Homo sapiens: one gene and its partners. The protein of the gene in region 5 purifies or fractionates together with the protein of the main gene of each other region. This does not show direct contact. Each region holds a gene or a part of one and is shown on either strand. Other genes may lie near its edges.

Evidence for each region.
Region 1: the proteins of BTNL9 (region 5) and DNAJC16 purify together in Homo sapiens (affinity purification with mass spectrometry; one large-scale study listed by BioGRID and IntAct). This does not show direct contact.
Region 2: the proteins of BTNL9 (region 5) and CAND2 purify together in Homo sapiens (affinity purification with mass spectrometry; one large-scale study listed by BioGRID and IntAct). This does not show direct contact.
Region 3: the proteins of BTNL9 (region 5) and IPO9 purify together in Homo sapiens (affinity purification with mass spectrometry; one large-scale study listed by BioGRID and IntAct). This does not show direct contact.
Region 4: the proteins of BTNL9 (region 5) and DYM purify together in Homo sapiens (affinity purification with mass spectrometry; one large-scale study listed by BioGRID and IntAct). This does not show direct contact.
Region 6: the proteins of BTNL9 (region 5) and SLTM purify together in Homo sapiens (affinity purification with mass spectrometry; one large-scale study listed by BioGRID and IntAct). This does not show direct contact.
Region 7: the proteins of BTNL9 (region 5) and METTL9 purify together in Homo sapiens (affinity purification with mass spectrometry; one large-scale study listed by BioGRID and IntAct). This does not show direct contact.

The regions. Positions count from the first base shown.
Region 1 is NC_000001.11:15,547,348-15,550,847, reverse strand, and holds part of DNAJC16 (dnaJ homolog subfamily C member 16 isoform 1 precursor), read right to left. Parts: intron 2,579-3,500; coding exon 2,420-2,578; intron 1-2,419. UniProt on the Homo sapiens protein: Plays an important role in regulating the size of autophagosomes during the formation process.
Region 2 is NC_000003.12:12,799,680-12,803,179, reverse strand, and holds part of CAND2 (cullin-associated NEDD8-dissociated protein 2), read right to left. Parts: intron 1-3,500.
Region 3 is NC_000001.11:201,853,157-201,856,656, reverse strand, and holds part of IPO9 (importin-9), read right to left. Parts: intron 2,063-3,500; coding exon 1,943-2,062; intron 1,835-1,942; coding exon 1,734-1,834; intron 1,534-1,733; coding exon 1,475-1,533; intron 875-1,474; coding exon 723-874; intron 1-722. UniProt on the Homo sapiens protein: Nuclear transport receptor that mediates nuclear import of proteins, such as histones, proteasome and actin. Serves as receptor for nuclear localization signals (NLS) in cargo substrates.
Region 4 is NC_000018.10:49,373,646-49,377,145, forward strand, and holds part of DYM (dymeclin), read right to left. Parts: intron 1-3,500. UniProt on the Homo sapiens protein: Necessary for correct organization of Golgi apparatus. Involved in bone development.
Region 5 is NC_000005.10:181,053,766-181,057,265, forward strand, and holds part of BTNL9 (butyrophilin-like protein 9 isoform a precursor), read left to right. Parts: exon of another isoform or gene 1-266; coding exon of another isoform or gene 267-375; intron 376-473; coding exon 474-494; intron 495-1,667; coding exon 1,668-1,688; intron 1,689-2,223; coding exon 2,224-2,250; intron 2,251-2,772; coding exon of another isoform or gene 2,773-2,852; exon of another isoform or gene 2,853-3,404; intron 3,405-3,500.
Region 6 is NC_000015.10:58,885,180-58,888,679, forward strand, and holds part of SLTM (SAFB-like transcription modulator), read right to left. Parts: intron 3,377-3,500; coding exon 3,206-3,376; intron 2,442-3,205; coding exon of another isoform or gene 2,423-2,441; exon of another isoform or gene 2,362-2,422; coding exon 2,047-2,361; intron 1,941-2,046; coding exon 1,796-1,940; intron 1-1,795. UniProt on the Homo sapiens protein: When overexpressed, acts as a general inhibitor of transcription that eventually leads to apoptosis.
Region 7 is NC_000016.10:21,609,577-21,613,076, reverse strand, and holds part of METTL9 (protein-L-histidine N-pros-methyltransferase isoform 1 precursor), read right to left. Parts: intron 433-3,500; coding exon 242-432; intron 1-241. UniProt on the Homo sapiens protein: Protein-histidine N-methyltransferase that specifically catalyzes 1-methylhistidine (pros-methylhistidine) methylation of target proteins.

The DNA of each region.
Region 1 (3,500 bases), on a different chromosome or scaffold from region 5:
GGTTTGTTTTTGCTGCGAGTGATTGGGGGTGAAGCACACAATGATGGTAGGTGGCCTGGTGCCCTGCCTGGATTCATGCACTGGCACTGGCAGCTTCACCCACTACTGCTTTGGTACTATCAGTGTAAATGTCAACACAGTGAAAAAGGCAAATCGTGTCTTGATATGATCTCACAGACTTTCTCTTGAAGGATCTTTGAGAATCCCCAGGAGTCTATCAACCACATTCTGAAAACTGCTGTCCTAGAGAACTCTGTACTTAGGTTATGATATTCATTGCAACACTATTCCTCAAAGCCCCCAATGTCCACCAACGGAAGAATGATTCAATAAATTATAATGGCCATAAATACCATATAGCAATGACAACAAATTACCTAGAGCAACAGGAAACCACTGGTGCTACTAGTGATCATTAAGCCACCTGCTGTTGTGAAAACTGAGTTTGTTAAGCATACACTTGATATCCACAAAGAGCAAGCTGGTAAAGCAGCCATTCTACCAATAATTTTGTAAATGTATTTGATTTACAATTTTCCCCAGTGGGATAAATAAATATAATTCTCAGAACTATAAACTGTTCCGAAAGACCAATTTAGGAAATCCTCATCCATTTACCCTGGATTGAGATTATCTTCTCTTTTCTATTCGGACACTGGTATTTGTTTTCTTCCTGACTTGCAGCACCTTCTCGTCTCCATCAGGCACCCCCTTGTCTTGTGTGCCGGTGGCTGTTCTGAGTTTTGTCCTTGGCCTCCTTGGCCTTACTTTACATACAGCAGTCATCCCCTAACTGCAGAGGATACGTTCCAAGACCCCCAGTAGGTGCCTGAAACCACATAGTACTGAACTCTATACAAACTATGTTTTTTTCCTATACACATACCTATGATAAAGTTTATCAATTAGGCACAGCAAGAGATTAACAACAACAATATTTAAATAGAACAATTCTAACAATATACTGTAATAAAGTGATGTGAACATGGTCCCCCTCGCTCAAAACATCTTTTTTTTTTTTTTTTTTTTTGAGACGGAGTCTTGCTCTGTCGCCCAGGCTGGAGTGCAGTGGGCGGCGTGATCTCAGCTCACTGCAAGCTCCGCCTCCTGGGTTCACGCCATTCTCCTGCCCCAGCCTCCCGAGTAGCTGGGACTACAGGGGCCCACCACCACGCCCGGCTAATTTTTTGTATTTTTAGTAGAGACGGGGTTTCACCACGTTGGCCAGGATGGTCTCAATCTCCTGACCTCGTGATCTGCCCGCCTCGGCCTCCCAAAGTGCTGGGATTACAGGCGTGAGCCACCACGCCCGGCTTCAAAATATCTTCTTGCACTGTAGTCACCTATGTTTTGGACCTGGTTGACTGTGGGTAACTGAAACCTCAGAAACTGAAAAAGGGGTAAGTGGGGTGGATCAGGGGAGACTACGGTATTATGCCGGGAAGATCTTACCCTACTCAGGACTTCAACCACTAACCATTTACTGATGATACACCAGTTTCTATCCCCAGCCTGTATGCTTTTCTTAAGATCTCGATTCCTATACCCAACTGTAGAAAGGACTTCTCCCCTTCTATTTCCTACAGGCAGCTCTAATTCAGTATGTCCACAGCCAAAGTTCTTATCTTTCTAAACCTGCTCTTCTTTCTTTACGGTCCACTTTCCCATCTGGTTTCCATGGTTTCAGGTACCCTTCTGTGTTCACAGGACACCTGAGCTGCCATTAGAGTGGACTGCCTCTAGCAAGATAGTACTTGTTTCTCTATACCCTCAACAGTACTATTTTAACTTAGAAAATCTTTGACAGTTGGATGGGTGAAAAAAGGTTAATGTTCTCTGATTACTTGTGAGATTTAATTTTTAAAAATGGTTATTAGTCTTCTCAGAATTTTATGATTTTCTTGATTAAAAGCTCTTTAGAAATTAAAAATATCAACATTTTAATATTTGTTATAAATATTCCCCCAGTTTTTTAACTTTACATTTTAAAGTATTTACATAAAAACATAAAATTTAGAGTCAAGTTATCAAGATTTTCCAAGATTTTTCCCCAATGCTTTTTAACCCTTTCCTACCTTAAGATCAGATAAATATTCATCTGTACATTCTCTCAGTTAGTTTGTGGCTTCTTCTTATTCCTTTTTATTACTGTTTTACATTTAACTTTTAAATTCATTTTGGAAAAAGATTGTTGGTTTTCCAACAGGAGCCCTTTAAAGGTGCTAAAATTTTTAAACGTTTTAAATTAAAAATTTTAAAGCAAACGGTACCAAGTTAGATAAAAAAATTCATTAAAAAATTTTGTGCATCTGAAGGAAGATCCTTTCCTTCAGCCACTTTGTTCAATTTTGCTGTTTATTTACATAAAATCTTGGGATAAAATGTGAAGAAAATCTTAACCAAGGTGACCCTCACGTACCTGGATAACATCGGCAGGCCTGTTTATATGTTCTTTAAAGACCAAGAGGGTAGGGGCGTAGATATTGATGTTGTACCGCCTTGTCATCTCTTCCGTCCCTCTCAAACCCACATATACATATCCAAATGATAAATAATCTTTGTATGCAAAGGCAGTCAACTGTTAGGGCATAATAGAGAGGAAGAAAATAAAACTACAGCAAAGATGTAAATGACAAATCAAGTAGGGCTTTTTCACATCACTGAGCAGAGAGGTACATGCCAGCTTACACAGCTCCACTAGGTCTTCCGTATCCTTGTATACTTCCATTCTATGGTGTTCCATGTGCAAAAACTGTACCAACAAAGTAAATACAAACAACTCTCTTCTTTTTCATAGCTAAAGCAAAATAACGATCTTCTTGAAATCTGTACTGGTCAGGAGGCATGAGTTTGGGGATTACCTGTACCGTAATTAGGTAAGATGGCAGTGACCATGCCACTGATAACACCTTCCTCTCCGTCTCATGTCACAGTGACATGAGAGGTAGTGGGGAGTGTAGGTAGGCTGGGAGTGTAGTGGGGGAATCATTCACAGGGCAGGTCTGAAGTCAGTGGGAATCGCGCTCACCATGCTGTAGTGAGAACTTGGGTGGGTTATATGACTGCTCTAAGCCTCAGTATCTTGCTCTATGCAAACAGGGATAGTGGCCAGGCGTGGTGGCTCATGCCTTTAATCCCAGCACTTTGGGAGGCCGAGGTGGGCGGATCACTTGAGGTCAGGAGTGCAAGACCAGCCTGGCCAACATGGTGAAACCCCATCTCCACTAAAACACAAAAATTAGCCGAGCGTGGTGGTGTGTGCCTGCAGTCCCAGCTACTCTGGAGGCAGAGGTGAAAGAATTGCTTGAACCCGGTAGGCGGAGGTTGCAGTGAGTCTAGATCACACCACTGCACTCCAGCATGGGCAACAGAGTGAGACTTGGTCTCCGAAAAAAAAAAAAAAGCCCATCACAGTGGCTCATGCCTGTAATCCCAGCAATTTGGGAGGCTGAGGCAGGTGGGTCACAAGGTCAGGAGTTCGAGAGCAGCCTGGCCAACAT
Region 2 (3,500 bases), on a different chromosome or scaffold from region 5:
TCTACTAAACAAAATACAAAAAATTAGCCAGGTGTGGTGGCGGGCGCCTGTAGTCCCAGCTACTTGGGAGGCTGAAGCAGGAGAATGGCGTGAACCCGGGAGGCGGAGCTTGCAGTGAGCCAAGATCATGCCACTGTACTCCAGCCTGGGCGACAGAGAGAGACTCCGTCTCCAAAAAAAAAAAAAAAAAAGATTTTAATGGAGCTGCCCTATACAGGCATGCCATTTTAATCTTTTCTACCTTATTTTTACTGTACCTTTTCTATGTTTAGACACACAAATACCACTCTGTTACAACTGCCTACAGTACTCAATACAGGTTTGTAGCCTAGGAGCAACAGGCCACACCATATAGCCTGGGAGTGTAGTAGGCTCTACCATCTAGGTTGTGTAGGCACACTCTATGAGGTTCACACAAGGACAAAATCGCCTAAGGATGCACTTCTCAGAATGTTTCCCCGTCGTTAAGTGCCACATGATGGTGGATTATTTGGGCAGTGGGCATGGTTGGGCTACAAGGAGACCCACATATGTGTGACACCAACTGCCACATAGTGGCAGACTAGCAACGGCTCAGCATGCTGGCTAAATGCATAATGTTTCAGGATCGGTGGCCCCCGCCTCAGCCATTTATGAGTGTGAACTTGGGCAAGTCATTTCACCTCTCCAAGCCTTAGTTTACCTGTCTGAAAACAGGGATGAGACTAGTACCTGCCTCATGGTGTTTTAAGTGCACATGGTGTGTGCTCAGTAAATGGCACTGCCATTATTATAATGGCACAGGACATCATCCACATCTCACAACAGCTGAGAAAGTGATGCCAGAAGGTTGTTTTGTTTTGTTTTGTTTTTTGAGATGGAGTCTTGCTCTGTTGCCCAGGCTGGAGTGCAGTGGCACGATCTCAGCTCACTGCAAGCTCCATCTCCTGGGTTCACACCATTCTCCTGCCTCAGCCTCCCGAGTAGCTGGGACTACAGGTGCCGGCCACCACGCCCGGCTAATTTTTTGTATTTTTAGTAGAGGTGGGGTTTCACTGTGTTAGCCAGGATGGTCTTGATCTCCTGACCTCGTGATCCGCCCACCTCGGCCTCCCAAAATGCTAGGATTACAGGCGTGAGCCACCGCGCCCAGCCAAGGGATACCAGAAGGTTGAACAGACACCTTGTGTCCAAGTCAGAGCTAGAGGCCTGTCTGCCAAACAGATGGAGGAGGGCGAGCCCTGTCCACTCCCATCTCAGAGAACCGGCTCAGTCCCTGCCCTTAGAGCAGTGGATCTCCAGCTATAGCCAGCATCAGAATCACCAGCAGCGCTTGTTAAATAATACTAGTCCCCATTCCCAGAGTTTCTGAATCAGCAGGTCTGAGTTGGGGCCCAGGAATCCACATTTCTAACAAATTCCTGGAGGACACTGAGGGTCAGGGACCACACTTTGAAAACCACTGCCCCACGCCATGCTGATGGGCATGGGCATATTTTGGAGACCAGCGCCAATAGCTGACTGGCTCACTGACCTAGGGTGGGCACCAGAGGCAAGGGCTACCCACCCGGAGGTGAGGGATTCATGGGGCCTGACACCAAAAGCCTGATGCTGTCCCAGGCATTTGAAACTGCAGTGGGAGTCTAAGCTGGAAGCCACGGAAAGTTGAGGCTGGGGCCAACTTTCCAAGTCGAGGAATGGTGCGGGAATTGGGCACCATTCCCGCCAAAATTAAGAGGGTAGGAGCAGAGGTCTGAAACTAGTAGCCCTCAGCTGTGTCCAGCTTGCAAACATGTTTTCAAAAATTTAAATTACTTGTCAACATTTGAACATTGGGAAAGTTGACACAAAAATACTGACTTTGGCCTGGCATGGCGGCTCACGCCTGTAATCCCAGCACTTTAGGAGGCTGAGGCGGGTGGATCACCTGAGGTCAAAAGTTCTAGATCAGCCTGGCCAATATGGTGAAACCCTGTCTCTATTAAAAATACAAAAATTAGCCGAGCGCGGTGGCAGACACCTGTAATCCTAGCTACTGGGAAGGCTGAGGCAGGTGAATCACTTGAACCCGGGAGGCAAAGGTTGCAGTGAGCTGAGATCGTGCCACTGCACTCCAGCCTGGGTAACAGTGCGAGTATCCATCTCAAAAAAAAAAAAAAAAAAAAATACTGATTTCCAGGCTGGGCGCAGCAGCTCACGCCTGCAATCCCAGCACTTTGGGAGGCCAAGGTCGCCAGATCACTTAAGGTCAGAAATTAGAGACCAGCCTGGCCAACAGGGGGAAACCCCATCTCTACTAAAAATACGAAAATTAGCCAGGTATGGTGGTGCACACCTGTAGTCCCAGCTACTTGGGAGGCTGAGGCAGGAGAATCACTTGAACCCAGGAGGCAGAGGTTGCAGTGAGCCAAGATCGTGCCACAGCACTCCAGCCTGGGTGACAGAGTGAGACTCAAAAAAAAACAAAAACAAAAACAAAAACAAAACACTGACTTCCAGATTATCTTGAAAACAGAATATTTGAGTACAACGGGGCCTACAATCCCTGGTGACAATACCTGATTAGAATCAGGTTGTGGCTGCCCTCTCCCCAGTTCACCTGGTCCCCACTAGGCCCACTTCACCCACTGACTGGCTCCTGCAGGCATGTGAGAGCGGAGTCTCAGGAGAAAACAGGACAGAGCAGCGAGGAGATACTGTAAGGCTGCCTCGGAGAAAGCCTCCAGCTTTTACTGACCCTGCTGGGCCACTCTACCACCCCACGCTGGCCCTGCTTTCCAGCATGGTTGAGCAAATCAACCAAGAGCCCTGACCCCCGCCTCCTGTGGCAAAATCTATCACAGTTGGGATTCTGGCTCTCATCTGTGCAGACTCAGACCTGCTCCTAGATGTCACTGCAGCCCACAGTGCCCTGTTACCAGGGGTGGACTGGTCGATGACCTATTTATTTTTAACAGGTAGATTAGCCACAAGTTGCTAGGAGAGAGAAGGAGGCTGGGCTGGCAGCATGGGCAGGATGGCAGGACTGACTGTGCCCACCTCTGGGCAAAGGTAAAGTGAAGGAGGAGGTTTGGATTTGAGCCAGGCCAAGGCCTGAGGTGAGCACATGCACCCCTACGTCTGCTCAGCTGAGGGGACATTCTGAGATGGCACCCAGGGTCTCCAAGTTGTGTTTCTGCTGCAGTCCATGGGGGCCCAGCTCAGCCTGGCAACCCAGGCGATGTGCCTCTTTGCCCAAGATAGGCCTTCTATCCCCGCTCTTCTTCTTCATCTGTTGAGCTCCTCCTATTCACCCATCAAGAGCCCAGCTCAAATGTCCCAGCTCAAGGATGACTGACCTCCCTGCCCTACCCCTGCATCCACAGCCCCTAAGCACAATGGTTCCCTGGACAAGATCCTTTCAGAGCACTCTGCACCCCTCCTTTATAGCACTTCTCACACTGCAATACAAGTCTGGCCACCAGAGCATCTTCTCCATTGGACTGTACACTCACTGAGGGCAGAGGCTCATCAGGTTTATC
Region 3 (3,500 bases), on a different chromosome or scaffold from region 5:
AACTCTAGCTTAAAAAAATCTTTTCTTTTTGATGTAGAGAAATAAATACTATTAAGTAGCAAGGTAGGTAGCAATGGCTATTGCTCTCTTTTAGAATCTGGCTGATTACTAGCTCTCTGCCAATGTCAACCTGCTGTTACCCTTTGATAGATCGATTTTCTGAATAGATTAAGTCTGATAGACTATTTATTGTGAAAATTATGTCAATTCTTGTGCTGTTTTAAACGAGGCGTTATCTAATTTTTGAACGTTCTTTGCTGCTTTTGATGACCCACCATCAGGCTAATGGTCTGATTATTACATTTTACTTTAGGGAAGGAACAGATTCTCCTAAAAATCAGTGTCTTAGGTTAGTGGTCCTGTGAGATTTTCTAATGGCAAAAGTGGGCCAGGCACAGTCACTCATGCCTGTAATCCCAGCACTTTGAGAGGCCAAGGTGGGTGGATTGCTTGAGCCCAGGAGTTAGAGACTACTAGCCTGGGCAACATAGTATAGTACTTTGCTGGGAAAAAAAAAAAAAAAAAAAGCCAGGTATGGTGGTGAACTCCAAAACCTTGGATTTGGCAATAAAATGATGTCAAACCTTTCCCAGAACTTCACATGAAATTATTCTTTTTGTGTCTATTTTTAGAAATAAAGTGTTCACCTGACCAAGACCTCATATTCTTCAAGTTGCACTTTCCAAATACAAGATGGTAACTGTCTCTCAAATATTATTTACCTGCTCCTCAGTGATTTGCATGTACAGGATAATATAATAAATCAATTCAGGCAAGGCTTTCTTAACAGTGCTTTTGAATTTGCTATTTTCTAGTAGAGCATGGACAAATTCAAAAATGCTAAAGACGAGATTTTCAAAGCCCAGGACTTCACCTGCAGGAAATACAGAAGAGAAGAAATTAATGACAAGAAAGCAAAAGGAAAGCATATATGCAGAAAATGAACTACATAACCTTTGTAAATTACTGAATATTTAAAGTACTTGCTAATGATCATTCCTGAGGAATTGGGAGAGAGGGCTCAGAGGTCACAAAACGTAATTTTGAGGATATTAAATATTCTTTGGTTTTTCAAGTAAAAGAATCAGAAACACTGGATATATTTTCCAGTATGTCTATTGTTCTAATCTGAAATAATGAGAAATGTTAAAACAGAAACGAAAGATTCATGATCTGGGACCCCCAAATGAAACACAACAAAATGCCAGAAGTAGGCTAGATTAAATGGCCTTAAAAGTATCTCTTCCAATGCAGAAATTCTATGATTTTATGAGATTTATGCAACTACCTATGTGGAACAGATTAAAGATTGTCAATTCTCATTTCCCCACATCGAATACATCGAAAATAAACTGAATTAGAAAACACTTAATAGAGTGAAGCCTCTCAAGTTACTGTTTCCCGCCCCCATCTCTGGCTTCTTTTTCTTTTCCCACTAACTGGTATTTCTATAAAGATCAAATAAACTACATACCATCAGAATCCACAGGATCTTCTACTTCTTCTGTGTAATTTACTTCTGTCCTCACATAAGTATGATGAAGAGTAAAGAAATAGAATTTGGAGTCTGCTTTACATATAATCTACATGGAAATGTTACATATTCCAACACTAAAAGTAGACACCTTAAAAAAGCCTGTGTAAGAAGAGTGGAACCATATGAATGTGAAACCCAGTGCGAGATTCCTAACTATAGGTGGTAGTAGCTCCCTTAAACTTTCAAGAAAGGATATAAAGCTGCACTCTCGGTTAGGGTGTTCCAAACAATAGGCAGAATCTGCTGCATGGAGGACACCATGTGCTTTGGGAAGTTTTTCACTAGGGCTGTCACTGCCTAAGAAGTTAAGAGAAAAGGACCCAAGTTATGAGTGATATATAAGAAATAAATGATTTCAGACCAGCCCCTCAAACTCCAAATATTTCATTGGTAGTAAGTGTTTACCTTTAGGACCTCCATCTTAAACCCACTGTCAGATGTGGGGCCATCTGGTATCTGGAGGGCCTGAACAAAGGCCTCTGTGAACTGCTGTACCACGGGAAAGATCAGGACTTTGGCTGCACCCTGATAACAGAAACCAAAGTCAATACTGGACAAACCCCTAATCCATGGCTTCAACACATATATATCAAACACTGATATTTGAAAGGCACCTAAAGCTCTCTTCAGGCTCCAAGCCTGATCAGAAGAGAATAGCTATAAAGTCAATGAAGGTGTTACCTAAGATTTCATTTTTCCTTAACCAGCACTTGCAGTTCTTCATCAAAGCCCTCTTAAAAACTATTATGTAAGACCAACTTTCCTCCTAACTGCTTCTGAATCACAGGGATTGGTATTTTTCAGCTAGCTTTGCTTCACACAAGAGGGCCATAAAAGAGTAGGAAAGTTCTAAGGGATGACTACTATGAAAAGGATATAGGATAAGGTGTTTGAAGAAGTAAGACTCAAAAGAAGACTAAGCTTTTTACAAGTTGAAAATTCAATCAGGCCAGGTGTGGTGGCTCACACCTATAATCCTAGCACTTTGGGAGGCCAAGGTGGGAGGATCACTTGAGCCAAGGAGTTCAAGATGAGCCTGGGCAACATAGGGAGAGACCCCGTCTCTACAAATATAAATTCATTAGGCTGGGCATGGTGGCTCATGCCTGTAATCCCAGCACTTTGGGAGGCCGAGGTGGGTGGATCACGAGGTCAAGATATTGAGACCATCCTGGCCAACATGGTGAAACCCTGTCTCTACTGCAAAACAAAAATTAGCTGGGCATGATGGCGCGTGCCTGTAGTCCCAGCTACTCGGGAGGCTGAGGCAGAAGAATCACTTGAACCTGGGAGGCGGACGTTGCAGTGAGCTGAGATTGCACCACTGCACTCTAGCCTGGTGACAGAGCGAGACTCCATCTCTAAATAAATAAATAAATTCATTCGTTCACTCATTCATTCATTAGCCAGGAGTGGTAGCACATGCTGGTGATCTCACCTACTCGGGAGGCTGAGGTGAGAGGATTGCTTGAACCTGGGAGGTTGAGGCTGCAGTGAGCTATGATCATGCCACTGCATTCCAGCCTGGGTGACAGAGCAAGATCTTGTCTCAAAAAAAACCCAAATAAATAAAAAAAATACAAATATAGCTGAGTGTTGTGGTTCATGCTTATAACCCCAGCACTTTGGGAGGCTGAGGGGGGAAGACTGCTTGAGCCCAGAAGTTCAAGACCAGCCTGGGCAATACAGTGAGACCCTATCTCTACAAACATTTAAAAAAGAAAATCAGCCAAGTGTGGTGGTGCACACCACACCTGTAGTTCCTACTGGGGGTCAGGGGATCACTTAAGCCCAGGAGTTCAAGGCTGTAGTGAGCCATGATTGCACCACTGTAGTCCAGCCTGGGTGACAGAGCAAGACCCTGTCTGGAAAAATAACAACAATAATTTAATAAAAATGTTAAATCTATCTCTAATACTGGTTAGTGTGCTTTTTCGTGCTGCTATCATGAAATGACTCACTG
Region 4 (3,500 bases), on a different chromosome or scaffold from region 5:
TGGTAGGTTTCAACTTAATTTACCCAGCTCCTATTCAAGATGGAGTTGTTCTGGTTCCCATGCCTCTGACAATATCACGTTAAATAAAGTAAAAATATGCACATTTTGTAGGACATAATACAAAACAAAGTGCTGGGTTTGCAGGTATTGAGTGGGCTATGCTCTTGGGCCCTGTGAGGATAAACATTCACTCCATTCTTGCTGCTAGCACTTCATGGGAAGGTTTGCAACTTACCAAGCAGAACTATGTTTTTGGTACTACTGGCATCACAAACATGAAGGCCAGCATTAACAAAACTAACACACGCAAGACACAATTCTAATTAAAAGCTCTAACTTCAGACATCAGTATATATTTAAAAAATATAGAAGGCTAATGATCAAAATAGTAAATTAAACATATCCATCTCTTGAAACTCAAACTCAATGTATAAAGCACAAGCTCTGAAAATCATGCTAAATGATAAACAATAACTGTGAAAGATGATGGGGTGGTTTGGGAATAGTTAAATTAATTAGATTCTACATAATTCTCACAAATATTCTCTCCTAGAAAAAAATAAAGTATATAACATTCAAAATACCAAAATTCTGCAGTATCTCTCACACACCAACTTAGTTAACTTCCTCAAAATCCTTGATTAAGTCTATACTATAACATACAGTTATATGGTAGTCAGAGAACATAATGGTCAATCCCAAAAGAAGATCAAGACCAGCAAAAAATCTAGCTATATTCAGAAACAACTTAGAAGGTCTTATGTTCCTTTCCTACTTAGTGACTGAGAAAGAGACAGAAAATGTATTTTGCCTGTGAAAGTTTAGGGGGAAGAGGAAGCAGTACCTGTTTTTCCAGTACCACTAATCAAATGTGGAGTCAAAGGGACTTTTATTATTGAAATAAATTTTGGTGAAATGACAAATGCTCAATCTCTAAAAATATTAGGATGGTTCAGTTTGCTTCCTGTGCCTCAGCTCCCTTTTCCAAGGTAGCTTAATGAAAGGTAGCTTCAATAAAATTTGGCTGCCTAGGCCAGGCCCAGTGGCTCACACCTGTAATCCCAGCACTTTGGGAGGCCGAGGTGGGCAGATCACATGAGGTCAGGAGTTCAAGACCAGCCTGACCAACATGGTGAAACCCCTGTCTCTACTAAAAATACAAAAGTAACCGGGCATGGTGGCACATGCCTCTAATCCCAGATACTTGGGAGGCTGAGGTAGGAGAATCACCTGAACCCAGGAGGCGGAGGTTGCAGTGAGCCGAGATCGTTCCATTGCACTCCAACCAGGGCAACAAAAGTGAAACTGTCTCAAAAAAAAAAAAATTGGCTGCCTATCTTTTTTAGAGCAGAATCTCAAAAGTTCAACAGGAATTACTTCAGAGTAGAAAGCACAGAATCCAAGAAAGGAATGGCTGATCTACAGTGAAACTGGAGAGTTGTTTCCCCTGAGAAGACAAGGTAAACATTTTTATCCAAGGGAAATACTCGTGGGGCAGCCCCTAAACACCTGGGGCTCTCACAGTTACAAAGCGGGAAAGGGGAAAAGACACACACACACACACACACACACACACACACACACATCTATACCTACCTTGGGCTTTAGAAGAAAAAAATATATATATATAAACATATATACACATATATATATGTATATATACACACACACATATTCATTGTCATTTTATTCACCCTTTATAGGAAACTATTCTTAATAAATTATAACTTGGTACAGTATCTGAAATTTAACATTTTTTTAACAGCATCAAAGAGAATTTCAGTACCTATCCCCTTCCCCCTATCCCCCAAAGTTAATGAGGTAGTAATTCATACTAACTCAAAACTGGACAAAACAATAAGTGACCTTCCATGAAATGGTCTTCTGGGACAGAAGGGAAAATAAAAGATGACAGCAAATAAAACTGCTAAAATTGATATGCTTGCTTTATTCAAGAATAATAAAGTTATCCACATTTTAACTATGAAATGTAGAATAATACCTGAGATACTGTGATGGTTAATATCGAGTGTCAACTTGATCGGATTGAAAGATGCAAAGTACTGTTCCTGGATGTGTCTGTGAGGGTGTTGCCAAAGGAGATCAACGTTTGAGTCAGTGGACTGGGAGAGGCATACCCACCCTCAATCTGGGTGGGCACCATCTAATCAGCTGCCAGGACAAATAGAATAAAGCAGGCAGAAGAACATGGAAGGAACAGACTTGCTGAGTCTCCTGGCCTTCATCTTTCTCCCATGCTGGATGCTTCTTGCCCTCAAACACTGGACTCCAGATTCTTCTGTTTTTGGACCCTTGGACTTACACCAGTGGTTTGCCAGGGACTCTTGGGCCTTCAGACACAGACTGAAGGCTGCACTGTCAGCCCTACTTTTGAGGTTTTGGGACTCAAACTGGCTTCCTTGCTCCTCAGCTTGCACAGGGCCTATTGTGGCACTTCACGTTGTGATCATGTGAGTCACTACTCCTTAATAAACTCCCCTTCATATATACATCTATGCTATTTGTCCTGTCCCTCCAGAGAACCCTAATACAATAACTTTCAAAGAAAAGTAGAACATATGATTTCCCTTCCCTGCAACCAGCCAACTATGTCATCTGTTGGAAAGAAACTTTAGAACACTTACGAAACAAACTTAATTGTGATATTTTTAATTCAGTATGCTCTCAAGGATGAAACTTGAATTTAAATACACTCAACCATATTTGTCCAGTATCAGTAGAGGAAAACAAAAATGTTTCCACATAAACAGAAAACAAAAGATTGCTGATATCTTGCTCAAGCACAAACTAGAGTCTGCTCATCTATCTGCCTATTTGGGGACAGGGCATATGTAAACTGCAGCAAATTCCATTTAGTCTACAAACTTCTGACCAAAGAAAATGAAGAGCTCTTGCCTGCTAAATGTTCTGCATGCCTTGCACACAGCATTGCTATGAGGCAGTAGTTTCCTGCCCTGTGATGTTTGCCACCTTTCAGTTTTCTCAAAACCTGCAGAACTTAGTGAGATTCGGACCTTACAGAAATGAAAGGCGATAGACTCCTTGGACATGAACCTGCCAAATGGCTATCAAGGTGGCCAGTCACAGAAAAGCTGTTAAAATGTTAGAAGATGGTAAAATCGTATTTTCAAAGTGTGAGTCAAGAAGAATGTCCTTTTCTAATTTGGAAATACACTGAGGATAAGAATGAAGAAAAAGATTGCAGTAAAACAGAAATTCATATTCTATTTCTCCAAAACCGTTTCCTGATCTTGAAAGAGGCCATAAGGAGCCTAAAGAAGGATGAAATGACTGTCCTAAGTTGCTCAACAGTATGTGTAGAAAATTGCTCTACCATCAGGTAATGGGGTCTCAGAGGGAGAAGAGATAAATACACATGGTCACTCTGCTACTTGAGTTGAAAGTATTGTAAACTATTGTTTTCTTGTACCATGTCATTTCATTTGCTCAAAATGTAACATAATACCTTAATACATTTA
Region 5 (3,500 bases):
CTTCACATCACACTGTACAGAGGGAGCGGTGACCAGGGTCTCTGCTGCCAGCGCCACCTCGTCCAGGTTTTCATAGCGCACAGGGAGTCGGGCGGATGCGCAACATCTCCGCACAGGGTCAGGAAGCGGCGGTCAGGCACCGAGAAAACAGCCCAGTTACGTGAGGCAGTGTCCGGGGCTTAACGTTTCCGCCGAGCTAATAGATTTGGGAGGCTCCGACCCTGATTTTCACACTAGCAGGAGGGAGGGCGCTGGGTCACCCTCCTATGCAGAAGGGCAGCCAAGGGTGCGCACTTCCCCATCCCCTGCCTGGAGCCTCACTTCCAGCCCAGCCTGGGCCCGCAGACCACCGCGGGTGGGAGTGCCGCATCGGAGGTGAGGCCTCAGTGTTCACCCATCTGTTCTGTCTGCCTCATTCCCCAACCTGAGAGTCTTTCCCCTTTTCTTCATCTTTTTTTTTTTTTTTTCTCTAGAGAAACTCACTGCAGAGCTGGGTAAGTTCTGGGTGCGGGGCCACAGTGCTGCCTGTCAGCCGGACCCTGTGCCTGTGCAGTGGGAGGAGGGGCTCCCTTTGGACAGCGGCTGGCAACTATCTAATTCTAAACCATCCCTGTGAGCCTCCACCTCTTCCCTTGCTAAGGGGCTGAAAGGATGGCTGCCTGCCACCGTGCAGCTGCCCGAGACCCTCTGCACAGACCCTGCCAGCTCCTCCCCTGCAAATTAGACAATTCAGTTAAAATTCATCATAAAACGTTTACTGTCTCCGGTTCATCTTCTTAAAATATCCTTTTCTTTTTAATGCAAATGGCACTAGGAAGGGTGGCACCTTTAATTTGCACCAAAATGGAAATAATTTCTCAGATCCACTTTTCTCCCCAGAGGGACTCAGAGACGTGAAACCATGGGATGTGTCTCTGTAGAGAGGAAGAGAGAGTGAACCCAAGGGAGGGGGAATGGAGGAAAAGGCCATCATGGTGTTGGGGTTGGGGGGGCAATTCAGATGAAACTGTAAGGTTGGGAAAGCTTGTCTGGCAGTCTACCTCGCCCTTCAAGGGGAATGAGAAAAACATAGCCCTAATAAGTCATTAAGGCTATAGTCTGAATTGTAAGTCATAACACTATAGCATGAATGCCTCTCCCAGGAGCATTTACTTTTGAAAGAGCTTGACATTGGGTGGACAGATCAAAGGAATGCATTTTTAGTAGCAAAATGTTGGAGTCCTTGGTAATTATTTGGGGAAATAATTGGGTGTGATGTCCTTCCAGTCCTTCAGATAACGCACCCGGTGAGTGACCGTGAGGCTCACGTAGGCGGCCCTCAGTGCCTGCACTTAGGCGGGAGCTCCGCCCCAGGAAGCTTGTGATTTCAGGCAGAAGGAACAACCCCAACCCTGGGAAGAGGCCTGTCAGTACTAAGATCTGGTATCCCTTCTAGGCTGTGTGCAGATTTCCACCTTTGAGCTAAGATAGGATGAGGCATAAGAGTCCTGCAGATGGGCCTCTTTTTGAGGGCAATGAAGGGGCAAAGAGGAAGCTGTAAAAAAAAAAAAATGAAGCTGTGATTAGCAGTGGCTTAAGACTAAGGAAGCTCTTCCCAGTGGCCTGTCTTGGGAAGATGGTTCCACCCACCTGCAGGCTGAAGTTTTCTTTGTGTGTTCTGCTTGCAGAAAAGCTTCAGACAGAGCTTGGTAAGTGACCCCTCTTAGAACTATTTCTCCTCAGGGCCGGGTCCAGTGGCTCACACCTGTAATCCCAGTACTTTGGGAGGCCGAGGCGGGTGGATCACGAGGTCAGGAGATCGAGACCAGCCTGGCTAACACAGTGAAACCCCGTCTCTTCTAAAAATACAAAAAATTAGCCCGGCGTGGCGGCATGTGCCTGTAGTCCCAGCTACATGGGAGGCTGAGGCAGGAGAAGGGCGTGAACCCGGGAAGCGGAGCTTGCAGTGAGCCGAGATGGCGCCACTGCACTCCAGCCTGGGCGACAGAGCGAGACTCTGTCTCAAAAAAAAAAAGAACTATTTCTCCTCATTCATCATTTTGCATCTGATTCCCCATATATCTTCTTCTCATCTCCCAACCAGGTATGATGCCCAGGCAGGACCCCTGCTGGCTATGTGGGTGGTGGGGGGTGCGGGACAGGGTGGGTGCAAGATGTGATGTGTGAGCAGGGAAGCTTGGGGTCCTGATGTGCTAATTTCCTGTTTTCCCTTGGTTGCTTCAGACTGGAGACGGGCTGAAGGCCAGGCTGGTGAGTGGAACCCATCTCTCTCTGACTCCTCCTCATTTATATCTGAGCACCCCAGTCCAACTCACCTGATTAACCAATCAGGCTTCATTCTGGTTGCATTCCGTGGCCTCACACAGCATGTGTTAATCTATGTCACTGGGTAGAGGTCATACTCTGTCCTGAGGACTAAGTGTACTGCAAACCACTAGTTCCAATCCTGGTTACATATCAGAGTTACCTCGACTCCTGGTGCCCATCCTCCAAGACTCAGACTCATGGTTCTGGCATGAGTGTGTTGCTGTACATGTAAATACTTCTCTGCATACCTCCCTCTATTCACCCATAATGCAGACAGTCTAATGTATATATTTTGTATATATTCTTGCAAAATGTGAATATCGATGTATGCATATGCATCTTAGTTCATGTAAGTGACATTTATGGTTCTGTGATGTTCCTTGCTTTTCCCGTATGCATCATCATGCTTTAATATCCATCGCTGCCACTCGTGTGCATTCAGTCTGTTTTTCCTCCTTACTGCAGAGTGCTTCGTTTTAGCCAGCCACCCTCCTGGAGAAGGTATCCAGGCTGCCTCTAACTCCACAACAACACTGAATGCATAGTCTCAAACGTGTTGCCTTACGGCGCTGTGTGGAGATTTCTCTGGGGTATATAACTAGGAGGGGGACTGCTGGCCCATGGTGGGTATGTCCACTAAGGGGATAGTGGGATCCCAGGAAGGCAGTGTCGTTATCCTGCCACCAGCCATGCAGTGAGATTCCATGTGCCCACATCTCATGTGAACCAGCATTCCAAGTTTGCCAATCAGTGGGGATAAGTGATGGCTCATTGTTCTTTAGGTTTGCAACCTCTGAATGCTGAGAAGATTGAGCATCTCTGTATATGCTAGTTGGCTCTGGGGACTTCCTCTACTGAAAATTGCCAGCTCACATCACTGACCCATTTTTCTTATGGGATGGCTGTCTTTTATTATTAACAGGAATATTATATATCTGTGTGTGTGTGTGTGTGTGTGTGTGTGTGTGTGTGAGATTAATCCCTCATGGGTAAACATCGTGAATTCCTTCTTCTGTTGTGCCATCTGCCATTAGCTTTGTCCATAGTTCCCCTTATTGAAAAGGAATTATTAATTTTGATAAAACATAATCCATCAACTTTTTCTTTATGGTTTGTGTTTTTGAAGTTTTGTTGAAGACCTTCCTCACACTTAGGTCACAAAGATTCTCTTACACTTTCTTCTATTTTTTTTT
Region 6 (3,500 bases), on a different chromosome or scaffold from region 5:
AACTATGGAAAACAGAGTAGCAAACACAAAGAAACAGAAACTGTAGAACTAGAGATCTATGGAAAGAGAAAGCAAGCATTGTGATACTTAGCTTACAGGAAAGAAAGCAGAAGGTACCCACAGAGAGGCTTAGATATAATACTGGCAGAACAATTTACAGACTAACATTATGAAAAAGAAAATTTTCAAGGGAGGATACAAGATCTCCTCCTCAGGACACATTTTCTAAAAGGACCTCTGAATGCGGAGGGCTAGTCTTTGATACTTAAATTTTACTATAAACAAGGCAGACTTATTTGGATTATAGACTCAGTCTTAAAAATTCTTTTTAGGAGGTGGGCGTCATGGTTCATGCTTGTAATTCCAGCACTTTGGGAGACAGAGGTGGATGGTCGGAAGTTTGAAACCAGCCTGACCAACATGGTGAAACCCCGCCTCTACTAAAAATACAAAAATTAGCCAGGCGTGGTGGCGCACATCTGTAGTCCCAGCTAATCGGGAGGCTGAGGAAGGAAAATCGCTTGAACCTGGGAGGCGGAGGTTGCCGTGAGCCGAGATCGCACCACGGCATGTCAGCCTGTTTGACAGAGTAAGACTCCATCTCAAAAAACAAACAAACAAAACAAAACAAAAAAAACAACAACACACACACACACACTGTATTAAAATACAAAACAAACACCAGCATATAATGGAGACACACACACTGCACAATTCTTTTTGGTATATAATTTATGAAAGTATGTCCTAACTGTGCTACTATCAACCCACACGCCAGTATTTCATCAGTAGAAGAATACTTTTAAATGAGGCAAAAGGTTTTTGTTCATTTCGGTCTCTAAAAGATAAAGACACTTTCCTCTGTCCAGCTCATTAACTTACAAAATATTCAAGTCAATAAAGTGTCACAAGAGTAAAAATTTAAAAATATGTAACATTACACTCATCTACCTTTAGGATAAGAAGACAAAAAATAGACAAAAGTTCTATTTCAATTTTACACTTTAAGCTACTTAAATGAAGCAGGAGAAAAAGAAGAGTGTGTGTGTGTGTGTGTGTGTGTGTGTGTGTGTGTGTGTGTGTGTGTATTTTTTTTTTTTTTTTCCAGACAGGGTCTGGCTCTGTAGCCCAGGCTGGAGTGCAGTGGCACCATCTTGGCTCACTGCAACCTCCAACTCTTGGGCTCAAGTGATTCTCCTGCTTCAGCCTCCAGAGTAGCTGGGATTACAGGCGCCCACCACCACGCCCGGCTAATTTTTGTATTTTTAGTAGAGATGGGGTTTCACCATGTTGCCCAGGCTAGTCTGAAATTCCTGAGCTCAGGCGATCTGCCCACCTCGGCCTCCCACAGTGTTGGGATTACCTCCCAAAGTGTTGGCATGAGCCACCATGCCCGGCCAAGAATATTTTATTGAAAAGGAAACACAAGTAGGGGCCAAAGATTTCAGATGCAGTTTGAAAGCCTCAATTTCTTAAAAAGAAATAAAACCAAAGTTATCATTAGATAGGCTCACTTACCAAATTAACAATTCTTAAATTTCACTGGGAAGTTTAATCGAAATGGAGTATTTCAAGGCTAGTACCTTAACTCTTTGGACTACTGATGGTCAACTACTGACAGTAAAGTATGAGAAAAATTCAGATTTTAAAAATTTAAATAAAAAATTAATGCCTCTGAATCATTCCAATCTAGCTAATCTAAGCCACATCAAAATGCTACTGTATATCCAGAGTAGCTCATGAATCCTCTAAATGTATGTGTGCAGGCTCGCGGCAAGCCTCCCGCAGCACTTACCTGTGATCCACCTCCTCGGTCTGTGATGACTCCTCTGTCTCCCTCTCTGCTCCCGTACCCCGAAGCGCTGCTACGATTCCCAGGGGGAGCGCCTCTCACACTGTGCCCTGATACTTCTCTCCCAGATCGTTCTGGCCTTTCAACTCTGTTAAACAAAACATAAAAACATACATGATCAAAACTGTAATCTTAACTTTTTTTAACCCCAATGCATGAGACCACTAGGAAAGCATTACATAGTACACAGCTACCTTGTTTCCCGTTTGTCAGTGGACATGCTTCCTTCACTTTTCCAGCTGGTGGGTCTGGAAGGATTGGGCCCTGCCTCTCGAGGATGTCTAGGATGAGTGATATCAGGCCTGTCATGAATAATCACCGTTCTCCTTTCGTCTCGCTCCCCTCGTACTTCTCGCCTGTCTGATTCTCTAAGTTCATTTCTTGGTGGTGGAGGCTCATTTCTTCTGGAGTCACTGAAATTTTTGGGATATCTTTCGAAGCTTGGATCTTCCCTTCGTGCAGTAGGTCGTGCTTTTTTCCCCTCACTTTGACCAACAAAGCGATCCCGCCTATTGATTAGAAACAAAGAATATAGGTCCAAGAAGTGCTTACTTGAGTGCTTAATTCTTCTTAACTTTGTCTGCATAACCTACAATAATGAAACCAAAAAATGAACTTAAGGCAAAGCCATGGAAAAAAGCTAGTTATTGATTATTACAACTCATTTTCTTTTAAACTGAACTAAGTGTCTAGCCTAAAGGTTGGTTTTTTAGCATTCAGGAGAAATGATACCGAACACTCAAAAGTCACTACCAAGCTGAAGAATGTTTTACTGTTCTTAACAGTTGAGGCATATCCAAAGCAATCAGTGCTTCCACAGTTTTAAAGATAAGAAGAGGCGGGGAGTGGTGGCTCAGGCCTGTAATCTCAGCACTTTGGAAGGCTGAGGTGGGTGGATCACTTCAGGTCAGAAGTGCTAGACCAGCCTGGCCAACATGGCAAAACCCCGTCTCTACTACAAATACAAAAATTAGCCGGGCATGGTGGTGGTGCATGTCTATAATCTCAGCTACTTGGGTGGCTGAGGCACAAGAATCGTTTGAACCCACGAGGCAGAGGTACAGTATGCCAAGATTGCACCACTGCGTTCTAGCCTGGGAATCAGAATGAGACCCTGTCTCAAAAAAAATTAAAATAGAATAAAGATAAGAAGATAAAGCCAACCTGCTTAATGGTGTTCTAGTTAATTAATTTGGAATACTGAATCACATTCCCATTAACAGAAACAAAAACCACGTAAATTGTTCTGAGCATTCAGTTCTGACCTGGTACTTCCAGTTAAGATTTTAGGAGAAACAGAGTTATCACTAGCAAGGCTCATAAAATAAATATAACAATTTTCAACATATCTACCTTTCAAAAGATGAAGACTGTACTGCTGAACTCTCAGGAAACCTGCCCCTCTCTCGGTGATCAAAGTCATTAAATCTGTTCTGTTGGCGAGAGTAGTCGGATCCATGGCCAAATCGTGCATCTGTATCTAGAGACAACTTTTTATTCTCGCTCCAGTAAGGATCATCTCGCCTTGAAGAGAAATATTTGCTTATTTACATAAATTAGTTCTACAGTAATCAAACGACATTTACTTGGAGTCATACATACCACATGTTAGAACTGTGGACATAACAGGGCTAGTAAACTCAAGACA
Region 7 (3,500 bases), on a different chromosome or scaffold from region 5:
AGCACTACCGTAAGTAACTCCCGCTATGAATAAACATACTAATGAGGCTGTCACGTTATGGTGAATTTAAAGGGCAGAACCACAGAAAGATAGAACGCTGGACCAACTGCCAAGGTTCTGACTAGTAGAAGTATTGTAGCTCAGGTAGTCAACATGCTGAACAAGATAACTTTTCTTTTTGTGTTTTTCCTTTTGTAAACCTAAGGATAAAGAAAAAAATAAATGTCCAAGATTCACTTACCCATTGATAGATGTTCTAGACATAAACAGGCTAAAAACAGATGACACAAAAGAATGATATAATTGGATAAATAGCCAGCCCGATTTCTCAATGCTGTTGTTTAAGAAGATCTGTGTTCCTTGATCAAGGTAACTCTGAACAAAGACAGCCTGGAGTGATTCGCATAATTTCTCTCTGTTGCACACATACCACTAAAAAAAAAAAAAAAAAAAGAACAAAAATTAAAACACACAACCGAAGTGTCACCTAAGAAATCCAAAAACAAAAAACCAGAAGACTAAATCACATCTAAGATTTCCAAATATTACCATCTCATGATACTCTGAGAATAATCATTTCGTATACTCATATAACCTATAAAATATAAAGTACTTCTTCAGACATGACTTCTCATTTAATTCTCTTACAGCCCTCAAGGTAGGTAGAGTGGGTGAGGGAAGGGTGGAGAGGCTTTTGGGTCATTCAGCTTAGTAGGCAGCAGAACCAGACCACAGCTCAGGCACTCGGACTCCCAGCCCAGTGCTTCAGTCACTGTACCCGAGATTTAGAAAGCTCTGCTGGCCTCTCTTTCACTGAGATTCAACATCAGAAGGCAAACAGCTAGCAGCATCCTTGTTTTTAGACAAGAAAACAGTCACATAATCCAATGCCTTAACTCAAAATCACCAAACAAACCCAAATAGCAAAGTAAGCAACAGAATTTAACACTCCAGTGACCAGATTAAGTTGCCTTTCCTCTTGTGGACTATGTAAAAGAGATCTTTAGAAATCTTGAGGTATGCTTTACAAATAGGTCATATGACATTCTTACAGAGGCAACATGTGCTCAAGAAAGATTAAGAAGTTACTTAAGGTCATACTGCAATCAACGAGAAGACCAAATAGTAACATGCTAAGAACCAGATTTCCAGGAATTGGCTCTACCCAGAATCCACATTCTAGAACAAAATTCAAAAAGCTTCACCTGTAGATGAAATTTAATCTTTCATAATAAATGAGTCAGCATACCAGAGAGGTGGGGAAGCAGACTGTACATCAGCTTTAGCGTCAGCCCCACAATCAAGTCCCGGCTCTGCCCTTCCTATGTGAGCTCAGACAAATCACTTAAATCTCTCAGCCTCCATTCATTTGTAGACTAGAGATGTCACTGGGGTCTATATATCCTGGCAGGGTACGATGAGGATTAAACAAGATAATGCAGGCAAGTCCTCAACATAATACAAAGCACGTAGTGAGAATCCTACAATAATAATAGCAGTGAGATTCCTCTAACATAGCCTGAGAAATAAGAATAAGCCCCTTAAGTACAGTGATGAAACTACAAAGTATATCAATTATTATTAACCCATTATCTGCCATGAAACACAAATTTTTCCCAGTCAATTGGCCAAGAGTAATTTGCTTCCCCTTGACAAATACGACCTTTTATCAGCAGTAGACGTCCCATAAGTGCTTGCACAATTGGTAGACCAGCTTTACAGTCATCCTAAGCTTACTAATGTTCAGTGAAATCTTAAGTAACATTCCTGATGCTAACGTTAAAAGGAACTAGTTACAAATCAACACAAACAAACAGGCACGTTAAATTTCAGAGATTAATCATTTTACAAACTCTGTTCCCTAAACTGGGTAAACCAAACCTTTCCAGTTGTGGACTAATTTGTGCTAATTTGCCATTTCATCACAGTTATCAAAACTGCTTGGACTTTATATATAAAACTGTTTTTATTTTTCCTACTCTATATGACAAGCTATGAAGCTTTTTACATTCACTGCCTACATTTTTTCCCTTGGTCTGAAAATGTTCTTGCTTAATGATTTTCTAATTCTTAATACTTATTGTGCCTGAAGTTATGCTCCAGTGCAGGTCATAAACCGTTTTTTATTATACTCATGACCTCCTGGTGCACGTTCTGAACTCTGTAATATGGAGGCCACTCTGACTTTTATTTATTTTTTATTCTCTGAAATGGCTAATCAAGATGAAAGCCATCACCTTGATAATAGGCAATCAGGTACATTTTATTAATGTGGATGAGAAGTCATTCAAGTGAAACAGAGGAGCTAAGAATTCCTTGGCATCCACTTGTAAATGGACTAGAACAACAATAGATTCTGACTTCTAGAACCAAGCAGGAACTGGCACCATTAGCTGCAAATAGTGCTTTCAAGCACCAAGAGGAAAACTCAAGTTTTTAATAGCATTTTTCTCAATTCATCAACATTAACACGTGTGGTTGAACCCTTACTGTCACACAGGTCTTTCTGGAAAGAAACTGCTTATTGAACAGAATGTGCTACAGAACAAAAATAGAGCAAAGCTCTTCTCTTTAAAAAGAAAGGTGAAACGTATGTCCTTTCTGACCATTTGCATGACACAAATGTCGATTTCACAGCAGCAATGTCAGAAACTGCAAACAAGTCAAATGTCCATCAAATGGTGGATAAGCAAGATGTGATAATAGATTCATATAAAATAATAGCATGTTCTGCCATACAAAGGAATGAAGCACTGCTTCATGCTCCAGCATGGATGAACCTTGACAACATTATGCTAAGTGAAATAAGTCAGTCACAAAAGACCACATACTGTGTAATTCCACTTACGTGAAATGTCTTGAATATGCAAATCCAGAGATAGAAAGTAGATAGTAGATTGTGGCTGCCAGGGGCTGGGGAGCTGGGACAATGTGGAGTGGCTGCTAATGGACATGAGGTTTCTTTTTGGGGTGATGAAATGTTCCAAAATTAATACTGGTGATGGCTGCATAATTCTGTGATTATACTAAAAATCAATGAATTGTACTCTTTAAAAGGATAAATTTCATGGTATGTGAATTATATCCCAATAAAGCTGTTTTTTAAACACACACACACACCCCTCCCTAAATATGCAGGTGGCAGTTAGATCTTCCAGAAATTAAAAGTGGCCTGAAAACATAAGTAACCTAGAAAACCTCTTAAAATGCAAATTTTAAATGCAAATCTGATCACATCACTACCCTGCTTAACAGGAATCTTAGGATAACATCCAAAATGCTTAATATGGCTTATAAGGCCCTGCACGATTTTTGTTCATTCTGTGTCTCCAGCCTCACCTCATGACATTCCCTACCAACCCATGACCCCTGGACCCTCACTCCATCACACAGCTCCACCCCTTCCTTCTTTTTTCTGGAAGGCCCCTTTCCCGTGGCTGTCTCACATGGTATTTGCTCTGCCCCCCAACATTTCCCACCACCTAACCCACTCTCTCTTC